Homo sapiens: one gene and its partner. The protein of the gene in region 1 purifies or fractionates together with the protein of each later gene. This does not show direct contact. Each region holds a gene or a part of one and is shown in the gene's direction. Other genes may lie near its edges.

Region 1 (3,505 bases):
TACCCCTGGTGTGGACAGGAAAATATTAGGCCAGTAGTTGGATATGGTGTCTATTTTATAGGAGTTCAAATTCTATGTTGCATTGGATTTTATTGCAAAGCAGTTACTTACTCCCCTCCCCCAGGTTGCCTTTATTTAAAAATGAGTGAAATATAAATATAGAAGCCTTTATCATTCTATTGAATAATAACACAAAATGAAAAAAACATAATGATGCAGAAAGTTGAAATAATTTTTTTTTCTGTAATATACAGGTAACCTTACTCCTAACAGTATTTGGTGAAGATGATCAGTCTCAGGATGTTCTGAGATTGCATCAGGATATTAATGATTATAACCGGAGATTCTCAGGGCAACCCAGATCTGTAAGTAATGCTAAAGCATGTTCAAAGTTAGAGGAAGACACATTTCTTCTCTTTTGTAAAGTGAGGTTTACCAACAAGTATTCTTTGACTATGAGAAATCTTGGCCAGGCACAGTAGCTAACGCCTATAATCCTAGCACTTTGGGAGGCCAAGGCAGGTGGATCACTTGAGCCCAGGAGTTTGAGACCAGCCTTGGAAACATGATGAAACCCCATCTCTAGAAAAAACACCAAAAAATTGGACAAGAGTGTTGGCACATGCCTGTAGTCCCTGCTTCTTGGGAGGCTGAAATGGGAGGATCACCTGAGCCCAGGAGGTTGAGGCTATAGTGAGCCATGATCGCACTATTGCACTCCCACCTGGGTGGCAGTGAGACCCTTCCTCAAAAAACAAGAAAAGAAAAAGAAAAAAAAAAATCTCATTATATGTGTTGGGTCAAGTTTTTACCTTCATTGCTGCCAATCACTACATTACACCTTTCCCAAGGACTACAATTTTCTTTCTTAAAAAACAAACAGCATTATAAAAGTTTTTATGAAAGAGAAACTAGCAGAAAAGCAATAGAAAAAATTAGAGGGAAATAGAAAATTATTTACTTCTTTGTGATACTAAAACACCATTTGTCTTTTGAGAAAAGTTACAACTGAAAACTTTAAGTTTCACAGTTGTGGTTTATTCTATTTGCCCTAGCCCTGTTTGAAATGTTCCCTTAAAAAAATTCCAGGTTGGCTGGGGGCGGTGGCTCACGCCTGTAATCCCAGCACTTTGGGAGGCCGAGGCGGGTGGATCACCTGAGGTCAGCAGTTCGAGACCAGCCTGGCCAACACGGTGAAACCCTGTCTCTACTAAAAATACAAAAATTAGCTGAGTGTGGTGGCAGGCACCTGTAATCCTAGCTACTCGGGAGACTGAGGCTGGAGAATCACTTGTACCCGGCAGACAGAGGTTGCAGTGAGCCGATATCACGCCACTGCACTCCAGCCTGGGCGACGAGAGTGAAACTCCAAAAAATTCCAGGTTTAGGCCGGGCACAGTGGCTCACACCTGTAATCCCAGCACTTTGGGAGGCTGAGGTGGGCAGATCATTTGAGTTCGGGAGTTTGAGACCAGCCTGATCAACATGGTGAAACCCTGTCTCTACTAAAAATACAAAAATTAGCTGGGTATGGTGGTTTGTGCCTGTAGTCCCAGCTACTTGGAAGGCTGAGGCAGGAGAATCACTTGAACCCGGGAGGCAGAGGTTGCAGTGAGCTGAGATCACGCCACTGCACTCCAGCCTGGGCAACAGAGTGAGACTCCCGTCTCAGAAAAAAAAAAGTTTGGAGGGATATGTTTATATGTCATCTTAGCTATTTAAAAGCAGAACACTGTACAGATAACCTTTCTTCCCCTTACCCTAGAAGTATTTGATAAATCAAAAACTAGCACATTTTACTGACTCATTCTTGTTTTATCAAAATCTAACACATTCTTAGAAATGTAAAACTGAATAAGTACTTCAAAAACTAGAATGTACTAAATCCAAATTTATATGGACAGCCCAGACCTCTCCTCTGAGCTCCAGACTCTGTAGATCCAACTGCTTCGCTTCCATTTCAGCGTGGGTGCTCCACAGACATCCCTAACTTAACACGTGGAGTATTGAGCTGATTCCCTCCTTGACATAGTCTGTTCTTTTCTCAGTTTTGATTTCCTCCTCTTCTTCATTCCTCTCATCTGGTCTATAAGTAATCCTACCTTTTCTTTCTATTTTTGGGGTGTCCTATTATTTTTACTGCATCAACATATTCTTGCTGGCTGGGCACAGTGGCTCATGCCTGTAATCCTGGCACTTTGGGAGACTGAGGCAGGCAGATCACTTGAGCTCAGGAGTTTGAGACCAGCCTGGGCAACTTAGCAAGACTTTGTCTCTACCAAAAAATACAAAAATTAGTCAGGCACGGTGGTGTGCACCTGTAGTTTCAGCTACTTGGGAGGCTGAGGTGGGAGGACTGCTTGAGCCCGGGAGGCAGAGGTTGCAATGAGCCAGGATCACATCACTGCACTCCAGCCTGGGTGATCGAGTGAGACCTTGTCTCAAAAAGAACAAAAATGTCTTGGCTGTGTTGTTGTTGTTGTTTGAGACAGATTCTCACTCTTTCCCAGGCTGGAGTGCAGTGGTGTGATCACGGCTCACTGCAGCCTCAACCTTCCAAGCTCAGGCCATCCTGCCGCCTCAGCCTCCCAAGTAGCTGGGACCACAGGGGTGCATCACCACACCCGGCTAATTTTTTATAGAGACTGGGTTTTGCCATGCTGCCCAGGCTGGCCTTGAACTCCTGGGCTCAAGCAATCCACCCCCTCAGACTGCCAAAGTGCTGGGATTACAGGTGTGAGCCACCGTGCCCAGCCTGTGTCCACTTCTTTCAATCACTGTAGACATTGTGCTGGTCCAGCCCTGTCATCTCTGCTCACGGCAACCACAGTGGCCTCCTCACTTCTACTTTTTTCCCTGCCACAGCAGCCTGATACATGTTTTCTAGACATAAATGAGACCATGATGCTCTTGTGTTTGAAAACTTCTATTTTGTTTGTTTGTTTTGAGACAGGCTCGAGTGCGGTGGTGCAATCTTGGCTCGCTGCAACGTTTGCCTCCTGGGCTCAAGCCTTCCTCCCACCTCAGCCTCCCAAGTAGATGGGACTACAGGTGCATGCCACCACAACCCGGCTAATTTTTATATTTTTTGTAGAGATGGGGTTTCGCCATGTTGGCCAGGCTGTTCTCAAACTCCTGGGCTCAAGTGGTCCTCCCACCTCGGCCTCCCAAAGTGGTGGGATTACAGGCATGAGCCACCACTTGTGGCCCAATGTCTTTGAATGTTCCAACTCCTTACTGTGGCTTACAGGGCGCCACATGATCTGGTCCTCCCTCCCTCTCCAAATTTCTGTTAACCGCCTCAATCACCACCCTGCAGCCACCCTGCTCTATGCTCTCAGCACACACACAAACTCCTTCCACCTTAAGGCTGTCACACCTGACACTTCCTCTGCATGGAATGCTTGTCCTTCTGCTCTTATGGTGATTTCCCAGTCTTTAAATGACAACTATCTTAAGTAGACCCTCCTTGGAGAAGTTTTCCCTGCTCTGTGGCGCCCTCTGT
Region 2 (3,505 bases), on another chromosome or scaffold:
GCATGGGGGACAGAGCGAGACTCCATCTCAAAAAAAAAAAAAAGAAAAAAAAAGAAAATGAGGCCCCTGGCCATGAAGCTGGACTTCTGAGGCTTCCTGAAGGCTTCAGAAACCCATTTACATGCCCCATGCTTGTGTTTCTCCTTAAGTAGCAGCTGGGATGATAACTTTGTTAGTATTTCTCTGAAGAGGTCTTGTTTTTACAGGCAGGTCACTGCCACAATAATGAGAGAACCTGGGACACCAACTCGAAGTCTGTTGCTCTCCATTTATCTCTGTGGATAATTAACCAATTCTTGCCATTTGAAGGTTCAATACAGGAAAGGGTTTCCAGGGAGGAACAAAATGAGCTTTTGGAAGTTAATGTAATAAAACTTCTTTGTAAATAATACCTTAAAAAAATCTCGGCCAAGTGTGGTGGCTCATGCCTGTAATCCTAGCACTTTGGGAGGCTGAGGCAGGAGGATTGCTTGAGCCCATGAGTTTGAGACCAGCCTGAGCTACATAGCAAGACTCCGTCTATATAAAAAATAAAAATAAGTTAGCTGGGTGTAGTGGCGGACATCTGTAGTTTCAGCTACCCAGGAGGCTGAGGTGGGAGGATGGCTTGAGCCCACAAGGTTGAGGTTACAGTGAACTGTGATCGTGCCACTTCATTCAGGCCTGGGTGATAGAGCAAGACCCAGTCTCTTAAAAAAAAAAAAAAAGTAAAAATAAAAAAGGCCTCTGAGTCATGTTATATTTATTTTATTCCTGTATCCTCTCACTAGCGCCCACAGTCTGTAGTTAATAAGAGAAAAGTAGTGTTAGTAGTGCATGACAGTTAATGTGCCTGGTTTGGGAAAGTCTCTTTCCACCCATGGGATACAGTGCAGCAGACACGCTCAGAGGCTGCATTGCTCAGGAGGGTTACAACTCCAGGCCAAGCTGCTGCACAGTAAGTGGCTGCCCCATAATGGTAATGGATGTCTTTACCCTTGGTGAGCCTGTTCGTGTTTGCTTTTGCAGGTCAGCGCATTGTGAATAGGCTGAGAACTTCATTATTCTCCTCCATTCTGAGGCAGGAGGTTGCTTTCTTTGACAAGACTCGCACAGGAGAATTGATTAACCGCCTCTCATCAGACACTGCACTCCTGGGGCGCTCAGTGACTGAAAACCTCTCAGATGGGCTCAGGGCCGGGGCCCAGGCTTCCGTAGGCATCAGTATGATGGTATGTGGGCCTGGTTCCCCTTGGTACCTTCCTGCCAGGGCTTGGCTTGCACCAGGCCTCTCACGTGTGAGACGAGCTCAAGCTGAGCGGTTCGCATCATTCTGTAAGTGCCTAGAGCCAAAAGTGCTGTTGCAGAAGCTGCTGGAACGTGGGGATTGCCTCTGCCTGCATGGCCTCTTGTACCTTCATTTCTCCAGAATGAGTGATTATCTGGAAAATGGACTCATGTGTTACTGCTGGGTATTCTGAGATGTGTGTACCCGGGGTATTAAGGCAGAAAAGAGCATCAGGTAGAAGGAGCACTGGGTACTACCCTGTGGGTGGCACCAAGCGGTGACTAAATTCCATTCCTCTGTGTGTGTAAGTCGAACTGTGCTCTTTTAAGGGGAGAGCTCTTCACTCCCATGGCCTTTTTTCCTTTCCTTAACTGGGTGGCTTGTGCCTGTCCTGTCTGCTTGCCTTACCTCTTCAACCAGTATTTCTATTCAGCCCAGTGCTGCAGGTCATTGGAGAGGCAATGCAAGCCACATATGTGATTTTAATGTTTTAGTAGCCACATTTAAAAAAGCAAAAAGAAGCCAATGAGATTAATTTTTTTTTTAATTTTAATTTTTTTAGAGACAGTCTCACTCTGTTACCCAGGCTGGAGTACAGTGGCAAGATCATAGCTCACTGCAGTCTTAAACTCCTGGGCTCAAGTGATTCTCCCACCTCAGTCTCCCAAGTATCTGGGACTACAGGCACACACCACCAAGTCTGGCTAATTTAAAGAATATATATATATATTTTTTGTAGAGGCAGGGTCTCTCTATGTTGCCCAGGCTGGTCTCAAACTCTTGGCCTCAAGTGATCCTCCTGCCTCGGCCTCCTGAAGTGCTGGGATTACAGGCTTGAGCCACTGTACCTGGCTGAGATTAATTTTAATAATGTTTTGTTTAAGCCAGTATAAACAAAATATTGTCATCTCAAGATGTAATTAATATCAAAATTATTAATGAGGTATTTTATATTATTTCTTTCATATTATAGTTGACCCTTGAACAATGCAGGGGTTGGGACACTGAAGCCCACACAGTCAAAAATCAAAGTATAACTTTTGACTCCCTAAAAACTCAACTACTAATAGCCTACTGTTGACCAGAAGCCTTACTGATAACATTAACAGTCAATTACCATGTATTTGGTATATGTATTATATACTATGTTCTTATAACAGAGTAAGCTAGAAAAAAGAAATGGTATTAAGAAAATCATAAGGAAGGTAAAATATATTTATTATTTATTAAGTGGAAGTGGATCATCATAAAAGCTTTTTTTTTTTTTTTTTGAGACGGAGTATCGCACTGTCATCCGGGCTGAAGTGCAATGGCACGATCTTGGCTCACTGCAACCTCCTCCTCCCGGGTTCAAGTGATTCTCCTGCCTCAGCCTCCCGAGTAGCTGGGATTATAGGTGCCAGCCACCACGCCTCGCTAATTTTTTTGTATTTTTAGTAGAGATGGGGTTTCACTATGTTGGCCAGGCTGGTCTTGAACTCCTGACCTCGTGATCTGCCTGCCTCAGCCTCCCAAAGTGTTGGGATTGCTGGCGTGAGCCACTGCGCCCGGCTCATCACAAAAGTATTTATCCTCATTGTCTTCACACTGAGTAGACTGAGAGGAGGAAGAAAGGTTGTTCTTGCTGTCTCAGGGGTGGCAGAGATGGAAGAAAATCTATGTATAAGTTGACCCATGCATTTCAGACCAATGTTGTTCAAAGGTCAACTGAATTTCCAAATCTGGTGTGTATTCTCTACTTAAGGAACATCTTAATTCGGATGCTAAATTTTCATTGAAAGTACTTGATCTATATTTAGATTTTATAAAATGTACAATTGAAAAAGTAGTTTGACATACTCAAGTTTTCCAGACATACTTAATAGTTTGCCAATAACTGAATGGAGTATAGGCTTTTAAATTTTAATTAAACCTAAATACAATTAAAAAGTCAATGTCTCAGTCATACCTGCCACATTTCAAGTTTCCAGTAGGGCTATCGTTTTGGGCAGTGCAGTTCTAGACTCGTGGAATAAGAACTGTAAATAATCCTTTCTCACAAGTGGAAAAGCTTGGATTCTGTCCTTTGTGTCCCATGAAGCACTTAGAGAGGAAGGGTGTGTTGCCTATTAGATCTGACTTACGGAATGAAAAACAGCTTTGAAATCTCATGATTTTCCAGCTAAGAGAGAAGCAAACCTCTGGAAGAGGACCCTTCCTGCACTAACATGCCGTTTTCCAAATATGAATAGTTTTGGG

The links. Proteins that work in one complex are often made in the same cells at the same time.
Region 2: the proteins of RNF170 (region 1) and ABCB10 purify together in Homo sapiens (affinity purification with mass spectrometry; 2 studies listed by BioGRID and IntAct, with this or other methods). This does not show direct contact.

The regions. Positions count from the first base shown.
Region 1 is NC_000008.11:42,858,605-42,862,109, reverse strand, and holds part of RNF170 (E3 ubiquitin-protein ligase RNF170), read left to right. Parts: intron 1-254; coding exon 255-365; intron 366-3,505. UniProt on the Homo sapiens protein: E3 ubiquitin-protein ligase that plays an essential role in stimulus-induced inositol 1,4,5-trisphosphate receptor type 1 (ITPR1) ubiquitination and degradation via the endoplasmic reticulum-associated degradation (ERAD) pathway.
Region 2 is NC_000001.11:229,545,205-229,548,709, reverse strand, and holds part of ABCB10 (ATP-binding cassette sub-family B member 10, mitochondrial), read left to right. Parts: intron 1-1,008; coding exon 1,009-1,211; intron 1,212-3,505.